4 separate regions of the Homo sapiens genome follow, and regions 1, 2 and 3 are each reported to be linked to region 4. The links are microRNA targets in miRTarBase. Many come from high-throughput screens and were not tested one by one. Region 4 holds a microRNA gene; each other region holds the end of a gene's coding sequence.

Region 1 (4,000 bases), not on the chromosome of region 4:
TTCAGATTTACCCCCGTTCCCAAATGTGTCTTTATTGTAGGTTTTCCTTTCTAGGATCGAATTATGATTATGTCTTTAGTCTCTTTTCATCGGGATAGTATACTCAACATTATAGTATATTCTAGAACACTTTGAAGTTGTTATTAAAACATTTCTCTGTGACTTGGTGCCTTAGCTAGAATGGTAACCCAGTTCTTCTGGTGTCTCAGATACTTCCAAGCGCCCTCTGGTGGCCAGCACTAGTAGGTCAGCTGACAGGCTGAGGAAGTGACAGGCAGGCTCTGGGGATGACTGTGAAAGAAGGCCCAGACTGAGTGACGTGCCAGGTACATCACGGTTTTTTGTTTTTGTGTTTTTTTGTCTTAATAGGTGTGAAGCTTACACTCTCTGCTCTGGTAGATGGGAAGAGCATTAATGCTGGAGGCCACAAGGTTGGGCTCGCCCTGGAGTTGGAGGCTTAATCCAGCTGAAAGAAACCTTTGGGAATGGATATCAGAAGATTTGGCCTTAATATATTTCCATTGTGACCAGCAGCAGGCTTTTTTCCCCCAAGAAGATGATCAAAACAAAGGATGATCTCAACAAGAGCTGTATTTTAAGTATTTAGACAGTTCTTTGTTAGCTGGTTTCTAGTTGGTTATCTAGTTACCAATGCTGCAGTCCTGCAGTCACCTATACATTATTTAAATGTATTTAACTGTTAAATGCGCTACCCACCAATAATGAAATAGACCTTTATGAAAACTGTGCAATTGTGTGCATGTTTGTTTTTATGTTCCTTTAGAAAACATTGACTGTTACCATTGAATGAGATGGATCAGTGGATATTAAGATGAGGTTACAAATTTTGTTAAGTTCAGCCATTATTACTTTTGGTATCCCAGAACATGACAAATTATGAATAAAACAAGTATACATAATTAATGGCTCCAAGTATTTGCGGAGTTCCACGTTTGCCAGCTAGGATCAAATCCCCGTGGTAGCTAGCCAATACTTGATTTTTCCAGTGAGTATTTTGCTCTGTACCTAAATCTGTGCCACAGAATCTTCTGTGTCCCTAGATTCCACGAGCTTTTTAAGACTACAATAAGAGGATACATGCTTTTACACTTTTACATGCACAGTTTGTAAGTCTGTGCAGAATTGCCCTGCATCATTGAAAGGAAAAAGAGAAGGTGCTGAAAAGTTACACAAACACACCATACCCCTGTGAGCTACTGCTAGGAACATAAAGTAGGCCCTGGTTTGGTGAGATGGTGTTAAGCATACAGAAGAGGAGTAAGGTGTAGACAGTGAGGGTAACCTGAGGGACTGTGAGAGGTCATTACTCATTTCCTTCTAGGCAGACACACTGAAAGGTGGGTATAGGTAGGAGACCAGAGACAACCCCTTTAGGCTGCGTGGCATTGGCCTTCATCTGGGCATGAATGAGACATTAATAGGTGGTTCTGGCTGGAAAAGTAGGTAAGAGTACGTTTTCTGATGGGAGAAGATAATTGGATATGATTAAAGGTTGGAGAAGATTTGTTCAACAAATCTGTAATAGACCTGAAGAATGGTAGAACCTGAGTGATAAGAAATGGGTAAGAAAATGGAAGGACTTATCACCCAAGAAATGATACATGCTACAAACTTCCAGGTTGAGAAGAAGCTGGTGAGAGACCAGAGCTCAAGCAAGCTCTCCACACAGGAGGGTTGGGGGCATGAAGACCCCTCTGGTCCCACTATTCCTAGGGGACTGGCTTGAATGGCCCATGTGAATCATGGTTCTCTGGAAGGCCCTCTCCAGACAGACATGACTTAAGTGACAGAGGGTTAGAATTTGAGCCAGCTTGAGTCAGGTAAGAGGAGAAACATGAAAAGATGTCCATGCAGGCTAGGCCTGAAAGCAACTCCAGCAGTGTGAAGTAGACCCGCAGGCAACTAACCACTGCTGGTGGTCCTTCAAAGAGAAAAACCCTAGTCATGGGGACTGCTGCCCCTTAGCTAATGGGTGGCCCTTTATTGGGCAGTGGCTACAGTAATTTGGACTGAGGTGTGGCACGAGTGAGTTAACTGTTTTGTCAAGGATTTCCTTAGAGTAAATTGAACCTATTCACCCACATGCATCCTAATATGCTTTTATGAGTTAGAAAAGGGTAGGTTTCCAGCCGTGGTCTTGCGTAGTGTCCAAAATGCAAAGTTTGTCCCAGGAGCTGTGAGCTCGTGTGGCTTTTTTTTTTTTTTTTTTTTGAGACGGAGTCTCACTTCGTTGCTCAGGCTGGAGTGCAGTGGTGCGGTCTCGGCTCACTGCAACCTCCGTCTCCCGGGTTCAAGCAATTCTGCCTCAGCCTCCCGAGTAGCTGGGATTACAAGCGTGTATCACCACACCTGTCTAATTTCTGTATTTTTAGTAGCGACCGGATTTCACCATGTTGACCAGGCTGGTCTCGAACTCCTGACCTCAAATGATCCACCTGCCTCAGCCTCCCAAAGTGCTGGGATTACAGGCGTGAGCCACTGTGCCCAGCCTCATGTGGCTCTTTTAGCTCTGCTTCCATCAGTCTCCAGGGACACTTCCCACCACCGAGGCTTACCAGGTAGTGGCAAAAGCTGCTTGAATTCCAGGCTAATGCCACTTATGCCTGAGGCAGTGTCAGTGGAAAGAATTTGACCATCTGCCAGTGGAGATAAGATCTGTGAGGTTGGGGAGATTTAAATAAGCAGAGCACCTGGGTCGAAGGTGCTCCATGAGGCCTGGTTCCTTCTCCACCTCCCCTCATAGGCAGATGGTTCAGGAAAGCCTGAAGTTCTCTTCATCCTCTAGGGAGTGTAGTAACAACTGCTGTACCTATAGGCTTGTCTGCTTCACGCCTCCCTGGCCAGTGATCCCCCTCACTTAAGAATTTCAAGGAGACGGCAGGATACTCAAGTCAACCCCACGGCAGGATACTCAAGTCAACCCCGAGGTCCTCAGGTCCAGGCCAACTGGCCTGGCTCTTAGAGGTGATGTTCCCCCACCAGGGCCTCCACTGGAGAGGTGAGGCTGGGGAGCTGACTGTGCTGTGAAGACATGAGCAAGCCGCCAGCAGAACTGGCATCACCTACAAAAGCACACAAGTGACACCCGTGGTCCCCTGCAATCCTCTTTCATGTTGTCAGACACCAGACGTGGCTCTCTACCAGTCCCAGCTGCTCAGAACCAGAGCTTCGCCTGCCCTGAGGGAGAGATGTAGGAGGCAGACAAGCCCGAGGTGCTGGGGTCTCTGGCCATTACACGTGGCCAGGCCAGTTAAAACTTTATAACCTGCCTCCTGCCAGCTGGAGGTTCCTGCAGTTGGGCCACAGACCTGGCGCCAGGGAGGGGACGAATCTCAAGGCCCCTTTCACTGAAGGCAGGAGCTGTCTGTGCTGGGCCTTCCCTCCCTTCCCCATCCAGCGCCACACACGGAGGCTCAGGAGGTCGTGTGTCCCAGCCCCACTTTATTTTCGAATTTAAAACTCAGGGTCAATTCCTGGGGTTCCCAGGCAACCCTCCCTCGAGCCCACTCACTAGGGGCCAGCCCTAGATCTTGAAGGCCAAGGTGAGTCCATCGCCCAGGGGCAGGAGGCTGATGTAGACCCTGACGTCCCGCCGGATGCGTTCGTTTAGGTTTCGCACACACTCGGCCGCCACGTCCCCTTTCGGAGGTTGCAGCACCTTCCCGCGCCACAGGACCTGCGGGAGGGCGGGGCCAACCGGGCCGTGGGAGGCGGGGCTTCGGAGGGAGGTGCTCGGGCGGAAGGCGGGGGACTGGGAGGGAGGTGCCCGGGCGGGAGGCGGGGTCTTGGAGGGAGGTGCCCAGACGGAAGGCGGGGTCTCGGAGGGAGGTGTCTGGGCGGGAGGCGGGGCCTCGGAGGGAGGTGCCCGGGCAGGAGGTGACCAGAGCTGGAGACAGAACCAAAGCGGAGGAAAGCCTGGGTACCGGGGCCGGAGCCCCGGAGGGGGTGTAGCCTACGTGACTGGACTGGGTGGGGCTTT
Region 2 (5,611 bases), not on the chromosome of region 4:
CTTCTTTTCTGTTTTTTTTTGGTGGGGGGTTCGGAGTCTCTTTTGCCCAGGCTGGAGTGAAGTGGCGCCATCTCGGCTCAGTGCAACCTACGCCCCCTGGGTTCAAGTAATTCTCCTGGCTCAGCCTCCCGAGTAGCTGGGATTACAGGCGCGCACCACCACGCCTGGCTAATTTTAGTATTTTTAGTAGAGACGGGGTTTCACCACGTTGGCCAGGCTGGCCTCAAACTCCTGACCTCAAGTGATTCACCTGCCTCGGCCTTCCAAAGTGTTGGGATTACAGGCGTGAGCCACCGTGCCTGGCCGTGAATGGGGTTTTCAAGAAACCTCTCAGGGTAATCAGAGACCCCGTGCAGTAGGATAAAGGAGGGGGCTGTCACCTCCAAACTGGGAGCGGCTCCCCAGGATCCCAGCACCAGCTCCACCCTCTTTGTCCCCTCCATCCACCCACGAAGACCCCACCTTTTCCCCTAAAGGGCACCTGCCGGCATAAACACAACTGGAGCACAGTAGCATGACTTTGGGACCTGCTGGTGACAGAGACATCAAGGTGGGTATGACATGGCCACCGCACAGTGTCCCCACTGGGTGGATGGAGAGAACTGGCAGGCGTGATCGTGGCTCACTGCAGCCTCTGCCTCCCGGGTTCAAGTGATTCTCCTGCCTCAGCCTCCTGAGTAGCTGGGATTACAGGCGTGTGCCACCACGCCCGGCTAATTTTTGTATTTTTAGTAGAGACGGGGTTTCACCATGTTGGCCAGGTTGGTCTGGAACTCCTGACCTCAGGTGATCCTCCCGCCTCCGCATCCCAAAGTGCTGGGATGGCAGGGGTGAGCCACTGGGCCCTGCCTGTTACTAGTACTCAAAAGGAACAAACCTCCCTTCTCAGTGATAGTTTCTTTATTCCACATAAAAGTCCCCCCAAAGCTCATGGAGACGACGTCTTAACATCACGACCGTCGTCAATCGTAGTGATCATTTCTGTTCTGAAAAACCGCAAAACTCATCGTTGGAAGGATGGGCTGCTGACCAGGACTTTGGGGGAGGGTTTATGACGCATCCCATGTGTCACCAGAGGGAAACCCAACATCCTTTTACGAGGAGGGGTCGGGGTCCATTGCATTTTGGCCAAACCACACCCCCCACCCTGATACAAATCCATCTCAAAGCCCATCTGTGGACGGTGCAGGTCGTGGCCCAGCTGGGAACGGTGGCCCCGGCTGTTTGACCTCGGCATGCCTGCCGACAGGTGGCCTCGCCGGGGGCCTCTTTTGCTCTGGAGGGTCCGCTGGGGCTGAGTTGGGGTCTTCAGTTTCGCCTGCCTGTTGTCTGTGACTGCTGGTGATCCAAAGGGGCGTGGGTGGGCCACGGCATAACGGGCGGACCCCCTGGAGTTTCTGGTGGGGGCAGAATGTTTAGCCGGCAGGCACCTTCTGGGTCAGGTAGGGCCTCACTTGTCACTTGATTGCTGCTGTAGACACTCAATTATTAGGTGTCCGATTGGGTGGAATGAGTTCTTTCCTGTCCCCGTCTCCTGTCTGTGACTTGGAAGCGGCCCCAGTCTTCCATGACGGTTAAGGCCCAGCAGTTCTTGTCACTGTTGGGTTAGAACGATTCATGCTGGAGCTGCGTGCCTTTGGTCACCTGGGACAAATCGTGGCAGCTGGGCCTGGCTGGCATCTATCTGCTGGAGCCTGTCTCCTCCGGGCAGTCTGATAATCAGGCTTCTGTCATTTTTTTTCTTTTGAGTCAGTCTTGCTCTGTCTCCCAGGCTGGAGTGCAGTGGTGCAATCTCGGCTGACTGCAATCTCTGCCTCCTGGGTTCCAGCTATTCTTCTACCTCAGCCTCCTGAGTAGCTGGGACTACAGGTGCGCGCCACCACACCCAGCTAATTTTTGTATTTTTAGTAGAGATGGGGTTTCACCATGTTGGCCAGCCTGGTCTCGAACTCCTGACCTCAGGTGATCCACCTGTCTCGGTCTCCCAAAGTGCTGGGATTATAGGCGTGAGCCACCGTACCCAGCCACTTTTGTCATCTTGTGTTGGCTTTGGCAGCGACACCATTCACTGGGGTGGGAATTCGGGACAGGGTCTTGCCCCTGTGCCCGGGATTTGACATTTGGGAAACAAATGTTAAAACCCTACCATGTCCCTAAATGTCCCAGCCTCCCCAGGGCAATGCTGAGACCCAGAGGTGTCCCGTCACAGCCGGTGGCTCCACAGGAACCTGCAGGCATAAGCCTGCTCAGAAACCCCGTCTTCCTCATGGCAGGAGCTGCTGGCTTTTGGGGATGGGACTCGCGCAGGACCCTGTCCCACAGGGCAAATCTTTCTGTATCACTGCCCCTCAGCACTAAATACCACCAGTTCCCTGCCATCATCGTTGGAATAACCCCAAATGCAATTCCTTGCTGTCTCAGGTCAAGATGCACTGGACGCTTTCACTGAGGCTCAGTTAATTGTGGGTCTGGTTGGCCCAGCCTGGATAGCACTTGCTGAGAGGTCAACCACAGAGCTAGGAAGAAGGGCCTGGAGAATGTGCCCGCCCTACTCACCGTCTGCTCAGACTGATAGACATGAAGACATTTAGGATTAGAGGGAAACTCGTGAGCAACTCTCTGCAAACACTGTCCATTCTTTTCTTTTCTTTTTATTTTGAGACGGAGTTTTGCTCTTGTTGCCCAGGCTGGAGTGCAGTGGCATGATCTTGGATCACTGCAACCTCTGCCTCCTGGGTTCAAGCAGTTCTCCTGCCTCAGCCTCCCGAGTAGCTGGGATTACAGGCATGCACCACCATGCCCGGCTAATTTTTGTATTTTTATTAGAGACGGGGTTTCGCCATGTTCACCAGGCTGGTCTTGAACTCCTGACCTCAGGTGATCCACCCACCTCAGCCTCCCAGAGTGCTGGGATTACAGGCATGAGCCACTGTGCCCTGATTATTTTTTATTTTTTTTGAGACAGAGTCTTGCTCTGTCGCCCAGGCTGGAATGCAGTGGCACGATCTTGGCTCACTGTAACCTCTGCCTCTCAGGTTTAAGTGATTCTCATGCCTCAGCCTCCCAAGTAGCTGGGATTACAGGCACCTGCCACCACGCCTGGCTAATTTTTGTATTTTTAGTAGAGATGAGGTTTCACCATGTTGGCCAGGCTGTTCTCAAACTCCTCACCTCAGGTGATCCGCCTGCCTCGGCCTCCCAAAGTCTGGGATTACAGGCGTGAGCCATCGTGCCTGGCCCAGCCTTTTCTTAAATACTTCCAGAGACAGGGAGCTCAGTGCTTCTAGAGTCCATCTGACCAGTGATCCGCATTTGGACCACATTAGAAAAGTCTGTCTTCTTTTTCCTAGGGAAATTTGCCTCCCGAACAAGAACCCGCTGGTCCAAGCTTTGAATGCAGGTGGCTGCGGCCAGCGCACTGGATTTATCTTCCCGAATGACTTCTGAAACACTCAAACGCCCGATACCCTGTATCTTCCTCTTGCTAGGTCTGCCTATTTCAGAGCCAGTTTCTGAGCCTCTGCTGTTCCAACCCGGAACAGCGTTGGCGTGTCCCAGCCTGACGCTGGGTTGGGGGAGCAGTGAGGTCCACATATCTCATTCCTTGGTGGGAGGTATTGACGGGGTTTGCCCGGTGGCTTGACATCTGAGTTAAAGGGGCTTGAGAATGTTCTAGATTACTGGGGTGTCATTTTGCAATCGGAGGACAAGGATGGTTGGCAGCGGCTCTTCTTGTGCAATGGGCTCTGATCCTCTCAAAGGAGCTGGGTGTCATTATGAGCGAGAAGGGGGCGGGTCAAATGAAAAACCATGGGTGTGAAATTTGGACATAAGGTCGGAGGTCAGGAGCTACCCCAGGACGTGGCCCTCATAGGGGGGTTGAGCTTCTAGGTCTGAGGCCGCATTCTGGAGGGAAAGGCACAGGAAAGGACGCAGACCCAGCCGGGGTGGCGGTGGGTGTCTGTGGCTCCAACCTGGAGCGGGTGACAAGCAAGAGAAGGGTCTTGAATCTTGTATCCAGCTCTGACCACAGAGGCTGCGAGCAGGAGCGGAGGCCACCGACGCCACGCGGGCCACCCCCTGCGCTTCTTGCCTTCCTCGGCTGAGAGTTCGTGAGTGTGGAAGGGTGAGGGGCTCAGAGCTGGGCCCTTTTCTGGAACGCACAAATACTGCATCGTTAAAAAAAAAAAATACAATGTTTTCAAGCAGCTGAAAAGGATGCTGGGTTTCAGAGATGAACGGAGGGGCTGGCACCCTTGGAAGATTGGGACTCAGGATGAGGCAGGATGAGATCTGGGGCCAGTGGGCGTCTGACAGAGGTTTTCTGGCATCTGGAATCTTCTTCCATGTCCTTTGTTATGCTCACGTCGCCTCAGGACATGCTAGGGAGGGAAAGACACAGGCCAAGTTATTGCTGTTAATGTTAAAAGTGCAAAATGCGCTTCTACATGTATGTAATCCAAAACAATGATCCCACCCAGCGTGGGTGAACTCCCAGCAGCAAGAGTGGCACATGCCCTTCAGGGCCCGGCTCCTGCCACCCACTTTCTAAGTGTGGCTCTGAGGGCCTCCTTCCTGGTGCCTCAGCAGAACAGGCCCTGGAGACTGGCAACCTCAATCAGCCTGGAGGGAGGCTTCAACCCACCCCCCAACTAACCAACCATACAACCACCCACACATCTATCCATCCACCCATCCATCCATCCATCCATCCATCCATCCATCCATCCACACACTCACTCACCCATCCATTCACTCAATGGAGGGATCCATTCATCCCTCTGCCCACCCATCCAGCCACTCACTCATCCGTCCATCCACCCATCCACCCACCCACACATCCATCCATTCATCCATCCATCCCTCCACTCATCCATCTATTCAACCATCCATCCATCCATCCACCCACCTATCCATTGATCCATCTGCCCACCCATCCATCCACCCACTCATCCATCTGTCCATCCATCCATCCATCCATCCATCCATCCATCCACCCACCCACTCATCCATCTAGCCATCCATCCATGCATCCAACCAACCATACAACCACCCACACATCTAGCCATCCACCCATCCATGCACCCATCCATCCACCTATCTATCCATCCATCCATCCATCCATCCACCCACCCACCCATCCATTCATCCATCTGCCCACCCATCCAGTCACTCACTCATCCACCCACCCACCCACTCACCCATCCATCTACCCATCCATCCATCCACCCACCCATTCATCTACCCAACCATTCATCCAACCAACCATTCATCTACCATTTACCCATCCATATGCCTACCCATCCATCTCTCCATCAGTCCATCTTTCCATCCCTCCACCCATCCATTCATCCACTCATCCATCCACACAGTCAACCTTCACCCATCCATCCATCCATCCATTTATCCATCCATCCATCCACCTATCATCCATCTATCCTCCCATCCCTCCACTCATTCATTCATCTATCTATCCACCCATCATCCAAACATCCTTCCATCCATCCACTCATCCATCCATCCATCCATTTATCCACCTATCCATTCATCCATTCATCTATTGCTTCTTACAATTCCTTCTTTTGTGTTTTTAATTGTTAAAACATGCTTA
Region 3 (5,454 bases), not on the chromosome of region 4:
CTTGACCTGACTCACAGCCGCCTGCTCTTACCCCCCTCCTCAGGAAGTCTTCCTCATTAAAGGATGTGATGACGGAGCTCAGGGATGAGAATGCACATGTGAGACTGTGTGACACCAAGGAGGGTTGTGCGAACTGGTGACAACATGGCAGCACCATGGCCTGTGGGGGTTGTGTGACTAGTGTGACTGTGCTGGCGACCATATGGACCTGTTTTGTCAGTCGGTGTCTAAGCAGGAGATGGCACACTCAAACTGGGAAGTGTTTTAAACATAGGCTATTCTGGCCTGGCATGGTGGATCACACCTGTAATCCCAGCACTTTGGGAGGCTGAGGCAGGAGGGTTGCTTGAGCTCAGGAGTTCGAGACCAGCCTGGGAGATCCCTGCTCTATAAAAATGAAAAAATTAGCCAGGTGGGGTGGCACATGCCTGTGGTACCAGCTACTTAGGAGGCTGAGGTGGGAGGATTGCTTGAGCCCAGGAGGTCAAGGCTGCACTGAGCTGTGATCCTACCACTGTGCGCTCCAGCCTGGGCAACAGAACAAGACCCTATCTCAAGAAATAAAACAGACTATTTCCAAAGGCGTGGGCTGGGCTTAAGAAACTAACAAGGGGCTGGGTTTGGTGGCTCACATTTGTAATCCCAGTACTTTGGGAGGCCGAGGCAGGCAGATCACCTGAGGTCAGGAGTTTGAGACCAGTGTGGCCAACATGGCGAAACCCCATCCTATTAAAAATACAAAAATTAGCCAGGCGTTGTTGTGTGCACCTGTAGTCCAAGCTCCTTGGGAGGCTGAGGCATGAGAGTGGCTTGAACCTGGGAGGCGGAGGTTGCAGTGAGCTGAGATCGCGTCACTGCATGCCAGCCTGGGTGAGTGCTCTCCCCCCTCCACCCAAAAAAAAAAATGTAATGGGATGGTTCAGCAATCTGGGGCCAGCAACAGTGAGAAGCCTTTGCAACTCCTGAGTCTGAGGGTGAGGAGAGGTCACTGTGTGGAGTGGGGCCCCTGACAAGAACCGTGACCTTTGGTTGAGAGATGTGGCCAACCATGGCAACCTGGTAGAGAGGGAACAAAGAGAATAAATATCTACTCCTCCCTTAAGTCTCCTTAAGACGCTGGGATGTCTCATTGGCAACCCAACAGGAAGCCGGGGAACAAGGGAGCCATTGATGCAGTCCACAGATGCCAGCCCCCAGGGAACAGAGCAGAAGTGTGGCGAGTGAAAGCGGAAGGGCAGCATATCATGTAACTGTCTGAGGCTATGCCTTGTTCCTCAAAGTCCACAGCAACGCTCCTTCCCCATCCGGAGCTCCCACAACCCTCGGGTCTGAAGGGGTGGGTGGACTGTTGCTTGGAGAGCACAGTAAGGTTGGAAGGTAGAGGACAGGGCTTTTCCCTCTCAGCCTTTGCATTGCTGGCTCTGAGTCCCAGTTCCTGATTCCTGCCTGTCCTGGTGTCTTAGGTAGCTGCAGGAACTGTCCACAGGAGGAACCATGTCAGCCACTGAGTCGGTGTTTTTCTCACACTCAGAAACGCTGCACCACTCCCAAACAAAACCACAGGCGTGCTGCTGCCATCATGAGCCCTGGACAGTCATCACAAGCCATAATTACTGTCACATGTATATCAAGAAAACATACATCTTGGCCAGGTGTGGTGGCTCACGCCTGTAATCCCAGCACTTTGGGAGGCCGAGGTGGGCAGATCACGAGGTCAAGAGTTCGAGACCAGCCTGACCAACATGGTGAAACCCCGTCTCTACTAAAAATACAAAAATTAGCTGGGCATGGTGGTGGGTGCCTGTAATCCCAGCTACTCAGGAGGCTGAGGCAGGAGAATCGCTTGAACACGGGAGGCAGAGGTTACAGTGAGCTGAGATCGCACCGCTGCACTCCAGCCTGGGCGACAGAGCGAGACTCCGTCTCAGAAAAAGAAAAAAAAAATGTACATCTTGCCACACTGCTACACTGTGCCATAGTCACATATAAAATGACAAATGTCACAGTAATGTCAAATTATGCCTTGTCACATACGTACAGGAGACAACTGTCACAATCATGTGAAATCACAGTGCAGGAGCAGGATGGAACAGAGGTTAACAGCAATGGCTCTGGATCCAGACAAACCTCTTTGACCTCTCTGGTCTCAGTTTCTGTCTGCCAAATGGAAATGCTTTCTTTCCCCTTGTGGAGTTGTTGCAAGGATGATTTGGGAGATCATGATTGGGAAGACCTCAGCATAGTGCCTGCTGGAGTGAAGCCCACCAGGAATGGTGGCTGCTACTGTGAATAACTGTCTCACACGCCCCCACTGCCTCAGGCCCATGCGTGTGTGCAGTACCAGCACCTGGACGAGGCCTGCCAGACACCCTCAGGTACATGTGCCACAGTGCATGCACATTCACAGGCAAGCTCTCTGCCTGGAATGCTCTTTCTCTAAACATCTTCATGCCCACCTCCCACCACCTTTATGTCTTTGTTCAATCAAATATCACCTTTCAATGAGTTGCACCTGACTTTTTTTTTTTTTTTTTTTTGAGATGGAGTCTCGCTCTGTTGTCCAGGCTGGAGTGCAGTGGTATGATCTCAGCTCACTGCAACCTCTGCCTCCCAGGTTCAAGCGATTCTCCTGCCTCAGCCTCCCGACCAGCTGGAATTACAGGCACACGCCACCATACCCAGCTAATTTTTGTATTTTTAGTAGAGATGGGGTTTCACCATGTTGGCCAGGTTGATTTTGAACTACTGACCTCAAGTGATCTGCCCACCTCAGCCTCCCAAAGTGCTGGGATTACAGGCATGAGCCACTGCGCCAGGCTCCTGACTTATTTTTCAATTTTCAAAACCCAGCATTTCCAGTCCCTTACCCTGCTATATTTTTACATATCACTGATCATCTAAGACCATACGGTTCGGTTTATTTTCTATCTACTCCGTTAGAATGTAGTCTTCACAAGGACAGGGATTTTGTCTTTTGTTTGCTGATGTATTCCCAGCACCCAGAACGGTGTCTGGCACATGGTGGCTGAATGCAGTGTATACACACATGTACCAAATGGGTTTCTCGCTTTTTCAGCCCTTAACTAAACAAGCACATCCAGGTGAACTCCACCCCCCAGCCCAAAAAGGTAAGTCTGTTGTGTTTACACTGTGAGCCTCTCATGCCAAGGCTGAAATAGCCAACTCAGGAGGTGAGACAAACTTAGTCCTTCCCATGACCATAGTTGGGTGGTCACAGCTGGGATGGGGGTGGGAGCTGGTTTTAGTCACCAAGCAAAGAAAGCCTTTCTGTTCACTTTCCAGCCATTTTGAGCCCAGCAGCACAAGGGACTCAGAGCAGGTGAGGTGGCTGGACTCACCCTGGTGACCTGGGGCCTCCTCTGCAGCATTGTTTTTTCCACCCTGGCCAGAACCATCAAAGTCACCACTTCAGAGGCCCCTAATGAGGCTGAATATGTTAAGGGCTTTGCAATCCCTGGATCAAAGAGTCTGGGCAAACAGCAGGCAGCGTCCAGGCCCATGACTGACTGGCTGATACTCTGAGGGCGCAGCATGCTAGGAACTTGCGGCTGACACTCCTAGACAGCCTGGCATGGCCCCATGTGGGTTTGGGAAGGGGAGACCCTCCCCATCCAGGGGATCTGATTAGAGCGAGCCAGAGCACACCCATCAGTGCTCGGGGCAAGGGAAGGAGCTGGAGGACTGAGGGAGCCTCTCCCAAATAGAGGCCCTACCTGGGCTCAGGCTTAGGGGGAACCCTACAAGTTCCCCAGTCTCAGCCACCTTTACTGGAGGGGCCTCCAGTCCAGATTCACCCAGCCTGTTCTCTAGCTGCTCCCTTGGAAGAGACGGGGTAGACAGAGCTGGGAACAAGTACCCCTGAGCACCAGAGTCTGAGTCTAGGCCCAGAGCTATTTGGATTCCAGGTAGAAAACATAAAAATATTTACTCCTTAACAAGAGCCCTAGACCTGCTAAGGCAACGTGCAGGTCACACATGTAGACAGCAGCTCTTAATATACAGCTGGTCAGGCTGCGGCTGGGGTTGGGAGAAGGAGGGGCAGTCCCCCAGCCATAGCCCAGGCTTCAAACCCCGCCCCCGCAAATGCTCCCTTCCACAGTACAAGCCAGACTCCAACTGGGGGAGGCAGCTGCAACCCCCACTGCTACGGAAGGTCCTTCTTTCCCCAGAGGAAGCATGGCACTAAGGTTCAGTGTAGACCGTCTTTATTGGCAGGTGTTAAGAGTGCAAAATATCAACAAACCCAGGGGAATACGCAAGGGGGTGGGAGTATGGCTCCCCTACCCCATGTGAGAGCCCTGTAACCAAGCCAGTGGGGTGGGAACGTTGACTTGACTGTGGCAAATTCAGGCTCAGCACCTTCCAAAGAACAAGCTCCCAGGCAGGAGGGCTCCTTGCAACACAAGGGGGAAAGGAGTGGCACCCTGGAAGGGGCCTGGGCTGCGACCCACCCTGGGCTGCTTGGCTCCTGTATACTGCCCACCTCAACCCCTCAAGAGGAAGGCTTCACAGCTGGGGGTATGTAGTTCAGAGAACCGGGCTAAACCCAGCCCTCCCCAAACCCAGGTATCTGCCTCGGGCCTCAGTTTCCCTCCTCCCAGTGATTACCCAAGTTGGCCCATCAGGCCCTGTAGTGGCCCAGCCTGATCCAAAGTGACAAGTCCCTGTAACATACCATGTATCAGTCAGTGTGTGGGCTGCAGGCCCTCCAAAGCTGCTGGGATCACCACAGGCTGGCCTTAGTCAAAAAGACCCTCTTAGACCATGGGAATCAATCCAAGGTGCTGGGCATTAAGGCTACCACCCCAAACTTGCTTTGTCTCCTGAAGGAAATTGACTTCCAAGACAAATGGCGCCTGCACCCCACCGGCATGCTGGTCCAAAAGTGTGATGCAATAACCAAAGGGTCCTCCTGCTGAGAGCCCCAGGCTGGCATTAAGCCCACAGGGGCCTCGTGCTCGGGAAAGTCTGGTCTGTTCAATCAAAGGCCCAACCCTGCAGTGCTGGGCCTCCTGGCACATTCTGCGCCTCTGGTCATGTCCTCCACACACTCTTGGAGGCCCCACCCCACCCCGTGAGGCCCAGTCCCTTCCCTTCTGGCCAGGGTCTGAGTCAGTTACAAGGCAGCCAGGTGGGATAGGCGTGAGCCAGGAGAGGTTGCACGGGGGTCACGTAGTAATTGACAGTGGCTGGCACAACCCCGTCAGTGCCTGGAGGGCGCCAGGCCAGGGCGGCAGTGGCAGCTGGGCCCTGCTCAGCCAGTGCCTGCAGCGCCAGTGCGGCAATGAGGTCCAGCGTCTGGCGGCGCTCGTGGTTCATGAGGCACACGGTGCTCTCGTTGACCACCCGGTGCAGTGTCACCAGGCAGGCGTAACGGCGGGCTGCATCTGCCCCACCGAAGTGGGCCTCCAGGTAGCGCTCTAGGGTGCGCCG
Region 4 (5,611 bases):
TTTATGTCATGCTAATCTTACAACATTATCACTTTCTGTGGTTTTCTGGGTAACGTTTTCAGCTCCACTATGGATTAATTTTGCTCTTCTGGGCCACCTACCTGATGACCATTTATAACTTTGTGGAAAGGTACGTTCCACATGACCAAGTTTCAGAAGGATCTTGGAAATATAACTAGTTTCTAAACTGGGAGCTTCTTGTGTACTTTGACTTCTGCTATAAATAACACTATAGTAGACTCTGCTTTACCTTGGCCGCTTAACTTTGAGGATTAGTGGGACAGCATTTGACAGCCCGTGAATAAGTTAGTTAGCTAGTTATTGGACTATGAGACCTGAATATAGAAACTGAGACGTAAAGCAGCTACTGTATTTGGTTTTGTTTGCTTCCCCATGATCGAACTCAAGCCAGGGACTGCAGGGCCATTTTCCCTTCTTTCAGCTGGTGAAATCTGTGCTTTCTGTCTTATACACGTTCTTTTTCTTCTAGACCCTTGGCTTCTGCGTTCGAAGAGTCCTGTAGGTAACCCCCAGCTGATCCAGTTCAGTAGAGAAGTGATTGACTTGCTGAAAAGCCAGCCATCTTGTGTCATACCCATCAGTCATTTCATCCCATCCTATCACCATCATTTTGCAAAGCAGTGCCGAGTGTCAGACTACGGATACTCCAAGCTGATTGAGTTATTAGAAGCAGTGCCTCATGTATTGCAGGTAAGGCGTGTCACGGGATTACTTGTTTACAGGCAGGAATGTTCCTCCATGGCTTTGGCTGCCTCCATCAAAGAAACAGTTTAATTCCTAAGAAGTCAGTTCTGGGCAGAACATCCACTAAAAACTTTCTTCAGAGGGCAGGAATAACACACACAGGCGGCTTCTCAATTTTTCAGAACGCTGCTAGTTTCCAGTTTTAGAGGAACTCCTTGGAGGACTGAGGAGTATTTTCCCTCTAAGCTCTATAGACCTTCTTCATCCCAGCACAGCTTTCTCCAGAACTGTTCATGATTACAAGGAAGCTCCCATGAATAGCCACATACTTGTATGTTGGTGCCTATGTGAGAGTCAAGGGCTTAACCTTTCTTCTAAATTTAACTAGTTGGAGACAAGTTACTGGGCTAGAGTGTAGCACTGGATCCTATGAAGACTTTTACCAGTTAACTCACAGTGTTATAACAGCTTCCCACTCACTAAAAACGGCTTGAAAAACTTGTAGACCAATTTGTCTGGACAACCAATACAGTTTTCATTTCTGTACTCACGACTTTTCTTTTCAAAAGATTACACTTTTCATTTTTATACTCAACGACTGTTTGGGAGAAGGTGTGCCAGGCCAAAAACGATAAGAGTTTCAGAAGGCCTTGGACATTTGTTCCTTTTGACCAACTACATTTTGTTGATCGACATGTGTTTCAAATTGCACACATTCTACATAAAGGGAGTCATGCTCTGAGGCTAGTAACGAGAGGGTGAGCCAGCAGCAAGGAAGTCGCTGTCTGCTGAGGTCTTATGTGTATAAATAAACTATTTGCTTTGCAGATTCTTGGAATGGGCTCCAAACGTCTGCTGACCCTTACCCACAGGGCCCAGGTGAAGCGCTTTACTCAGGATTTACTAAAACTTCTCAAATCCCAGGCCAGCAAACAGGTCATTGTGAGAGAATTCTCACAGGCTTATCACTGGTGAGTTGATGAAAAGAACAGAAATGAAAGTAAATATTTTAGGACATTTTATCTTCTGCCAAACTCTAAATAGTTATCTAGTATTTCTATTAAGCATTCTTTTGGAAAACTTGTAGTAGTTTTTTGTTTTTTTTTTTTTTTTTTTGAGACGGAGTCTCGCTCTGTCGCCCAGTGGCACGATCTTGGCTCACTGCAAGCTCCGCCTCCCGGGTTTATGCCGTTGTCCTGCCTCAGCCTCCAGAGTAGCTGGGACTACAGGCGCCCGCCACCACACCCGGCTTATTTTTTCTATTTTTTAGTAGAGACGGGGTTTCACCATGTTAGCCAGGATGGTCGCGATCTCTTGACCTCGTGATCCGTCCACCTCGGCCTCCCAAAGTGCTGGGATTACAGGCGTGAGCCCCAGCGCCCGGCCGGAAAACTTGTAGTTCTTCTACCGATGATACTACTCATTCCGTATCCACTTCCGTTGTTAAAACCTAGGTGTTTCTCAAAGGACTGGGATGTCACTGAATATGGTGTTTGTGAGTTGATTGACATCGTATCAGAGATTCCAGACACAACCATCTGCTTGTCCCAACAAGATAATGAAATGGTGATTTGTATCCCCAAAAGAGGTATGTGACTTAACATTTGCTGGAAGGATATTGTCTATCTCCTGTTATTTTAACATAGTGTGGCATGGAAGATGTGGTTTTCCCTCCCTGTCCGTGCTTCCTGAAGATTCCACAGAAAGCACAGTGTGAAAACTGCTGCTCTTTGGATTCTGTGTTCTTCAAAGTAGGTGAAGCTGTTCTCAAGAACAAAAGCAGGCTGGCTTTTTAGAATTGACTCTAAGGGGAAAAAGGGGCATCATCAGCACTTTGCTCAAATGCCTTCTGCAGCCTGGCTGTGGCTACATGAGCCTTAGTCATCCAGTTGAGAATCTGTCACCGTGCCTGTTGGCTTTGCTCTTCTGTTGAACTCTGAGCTACTTTATTTACTGTGCACACTTGAGAAGGGAAGACAACTCGAATGTTTTTTTTTCTTTTGCCTTTCAAATTTTAATAGTTGAAGTCAGAACTGCACAGGTCCAGTTACGGGTAGAAAGTACAGTATTTGAGGGATGCGAAACTCATGGATACTGGGGGCCAATTTTTCGTGTCTGCAGTTTCCGCGGGGCAGACCGCAAGACTTGAGTAGGTGCGGATTTTGGTATCCAGGCAGGGTCCTGGACCCGATCCCTTGAGAACACCAAGGGGTGACTGTATGGTCGTATCCTCCTTCTATTATCTGGTTCTTAAACGGTGCTCCTGCAGAACATTGATGTCCATGAAATCATAGAATTCCAGGGCCCATTCTCACTTAAAAATTAATAGAAACAATCTCAGCTTAAGCTTTCCCTCCTGTTTATTTTTGTTCAACTTTTGAAGCCTGATTCTCTCTTCTGCTAGCAAGTTTTAACTGAAGATCAGATGAATAAACAAAAAAAGTGGGGATATTCAGAAGCGTGATTTCATGGGAATAATTTCTAGAGTACTTGCTTAAGTACAGGGACCTGGGTGTGTGTCATGTTAATAGATATGGGGCAGGGGCTAGAAAATTGTTTCTAGCTTATAAGATGACATTGTTTCTAGCTTATAAGATGAATATATATGAATTTCATAATATAATAATATCATAACTTCCTGGTGTTCTGCCCTGGAACATGTTTGAGAACCACTTGCAAAGAGGGAAGAGTATATGTGTTTGTTTTAGGTTGTGTGTGTTTGGAAGGCAAGGATGATATCGTTTATAAATTCCCAAAAGGATTTACTCTAGTGTGGATGTTGAACACAAATGGGTAGAAAAAAACTGTGATTTTATGTTTTTTGGTTTTTTTAAAAGAACGCACTCAGGATGAAATAGAAAGGACAAAACAGTTCTCCAAGGATGTCGTTGATTTGCTGCGTCACCAACCCCATTTCCGGATGCCCTTTAATAAATTTATCCCTTCTTACCATCACCACTTTGGCCGGCAGTGCAAACTTGCGTACTATGGGTTTACCAAACTACTTGAACTTTTTGAAGCCATACCTGATACTTTACAAGTGAGTGAAGAAATTCTAATTTTATAAAGTATTTTTCTGAACAACGTATAGGAAATACTTTTTCACGTTCCAGACCTGTTTTTCTGGGAAGTAGGGAGTTACGAAAGAGGATGAAAATCTAAGCTATTCCAGTCAGAGAAGCCATATTCCTGACTCATTAGTATTTTTAGATAAATATGGCTTTTTCCTTCAATAAAGGATTATTCAAACTTGTTTTGGGGGTAATTATTGAAAAAAAGATTCAGTAGGTTTTCTTTTTTTTGTTTGTTTGTTTTTGTTTTTTGAGACGGAGTTTCTTTCTTGTCGCCCAGGCTGGAGTGCAATGGCGCAATCTTGGCTCACTGCAACCTCCGCCTGCGGGTTCAAGCAGTTCACTTGCCTCAACCTCCCGAGTAGCTGGGGATTACAGGTGCCCGCCACCATGCCCAGCTAATTTTTCTATTTTTAGTAGAGATGGTGTTTCACCACGTTGGCCAGGCTGGTCTTGAGCTCCTGACCTCAGTTGATCCGCCTGTCTCAGCCTCCCAGAGTGCTGGGATTACAGGCGTGAGCCACCACACCTGCTGATTTCTTACACTGAATATTTGTTCATTACTTTTATACTTTTAAAATCCTTCGTGTTGAAGGTAGGTCTGAGTACATGAGGTAACATCAGTGCTAAGCTGTTCGCTGTTGCTAAGTTAAACCAAATTTCTGTTGTTGATTTTATTTTCTTTTTTTACTACTGAAGTGCTTTTTAAAAATTGTTTTATTGTGGCACAATACACATAACATAGAACTTACCTTCGTAACTATCTTTATATCTCCTGTCCAGTAGTGGTCAGCACATTCACATTGTTATGCAACCGATCTTCTGAACTTTTTCATCTTACACAACTGAAACTTTATACCCATTCAGTAACGCTGACTTGTTTTTTCATTACTAGCTGCATACTTTTTTTGCTATTCTGTAAACACCCGTGATTTGTTTATTTTCCCTTTCCTCCCCCCGTGTGTTTTCAAAGGTATTGGAATGTGGAGAAGAAAAGATCCTTACTCTGACAGAGGTGGAGCGGTTCAAAGCTCTAGCTGCCCAGTTTGTTAAACTCCTTCGGTCCCAAAAAGATAACTGCCTTATGATGACAGATCTCCTTACAGAATATGCTAAAACTTTTGGTTATACATTTCGTCTCCAAGACTATGATGTCAGTTCCATTTCGGCTTTAACTCAGAAACTCTGCCATGTCGTGAAGGTAAATGTTTTTTTTTTTTTTTTTTTTTTTCCCTCATGGGATAAAACTCACAGTGACCTAATTCTCATTAGGACGTTTGCGTGTGCTGTAGCGTTTCTTTATTTACACCTTGAACTACTTAACTGTCACAGCATTATGACTCGTTTTGTGTCATTAGTGCTTATTAGGTAATAGAAGCCTTGGTTTGGAAGTTGAGAGTTTTGGTCTTCCTCTTGTGTGTTTCTGAATGGCCTTGCCAAAGCAATGCCTTTGTGAACTGATGAGGTCACTCTTCACCCCAGGGTTCGGTCATGAGGTGCAGCTGCCTCAGCACTGCTGGCCTGAGCTTGACTCCTTCCAGTGTGAGTTTTGCCTGTGACGTTCTTGGGAGCCCGTAATCACACAGTGTCCTCTCCCTCCACATTCTCACCCACTTAGGAGTAGGCTTAGGAGCAAGCGAGGGTGCAGAGTGGCCTTTGTCACTGGCAGAGCTGTAGTAGAGAGGGCAGCTCGTGCTGTTTGCTGTCCTGGACTGCACTTGACCCTTCCTGTCCTAGGCAGAGCAGCTGCCAGTTTTCGGCCTCCTCCCCCACAGGACCAGAAGAAGTCACTGCCAGGAGGAAGGAATGGAAAGGGAAGCATGAAGGACGGCACC

What was found. The annotated mature microRNA hsa-miR-6506-5p reads ACUGGGAUGUCACUGAAUAUGGU and lies in region 4 at 2,174-2,196, shown strand. An mRNA with a match to its seed (bases 2 to 7 or 8) in the 3' UTR can be bound and repressed. Matches are read on the target gene's strand: a 7mer-m8 pairs with bases 2 to 8, a 7mer-A1 pairs with bases 2 to 7 and ends in A, and an 8mer does both.
Region 1: miRTarBase lists VDAC2 as a target of hsa-miR-6506-5p. Seed matches in the 3' UTR shown: 8mer at 878-885.
Region 2: the mRNA of ATCAY is a reported target of hsa-miR-6506-5p. Seed matches in the 3' UTR shown: 8mer at 3,205-3,212, 7mer-m8 at 3,072-3,078, 7mer-m8 at 2,908-2,914, 7mer-m8 at 2,773-2,779 and 7mer-m8 at 1,993-1,999.
Region 3: the mRNA of TENT5B is a reported target of hsa-miR-6506-5p. Seed matches in the 3' UTR shown: 7mer-m8 at 4,739-4,745.

The regions. Positions count from the first base shown.
Region 1 is chr10:75,230,529-75,234,528 of GRCh38, forward strand. It overlaps VDAC2 (voltage dependent anion channel 2), which reads left to right. Exons shown (of 10, transcript NM_001391963.1): 10 at 370-920. The coding sequence ends at 461. It overlaps COMTD1 (catechol-O-methyltransferase domain containing 1), which reads right to left. Exons shown (of 7, transcript NM_144589.4): 7 at 3,113-3,697. The coding sequence ends at 3,545. Among named protein-coding and RNA genes, the nearest start is that of COMTD1, 3.4 kb to the right of the region's middle. RefSeq lists an enhancer at 3,378-3,527 and a silencer at 3,658-3,837.
Region 2 is chr19:3,923,354-3,928,964 of GRCh38, reverse strand. ATCAY (ATCAY kinesin light chain interacting caytaxin) reads right to left here. Exons shown (of 13, transcript NM_033064.5): 13 at 883-4,382. The coding sequence ends at 4,373. Among named protein-coding and RNA genes, the nearest start is that of NMRK2, 6.9 kb to the left of the region's middle.
Region 3 is chr1:27,000,811-27,006,264 of GRCh38, forward strand. TENT5B (terminal nucleotidyltransferase 5B) reads right to left here. Exons shown (of 2, transcript NM_052943.4): 2 at 4,210-5,454. The coding sequence ends at 5,134. It overlaps TRNP1 (TMF1 regulated nuclear protein 1), which reads left to right. Exons shown (of 2, transcript NM_001013642.3): 2 at 1-76. Among named protein-coding and RNA genes, the nearest start is that of TENT5B, 9.3 kb to the right of the region's middle. RefSeq lists enhancers at 986-1,589, 1,307-1,466, 3,017-3,661, 4,950-5,454.
Region 4 is chr16:15,607,657-15,613,267 of GRCh38, reverse strand. MIR6506 (microRNA 6506) reads left to right here and starts at 2,173; the gene lies at 2,173-2,238. It overlaps MARF1 (meiosis regulator and mRNA stability factor 1), which reads left to right. Exons shown (of 27, transcript NM_014647.4): 17 at 491-711; 18 at 1,534-1,676; 19 at 2,160-2,293; 20 at 3,543-3,745; 21 at 4,750-4,977. RefSeq lists an enhancer at 2,502-2,796.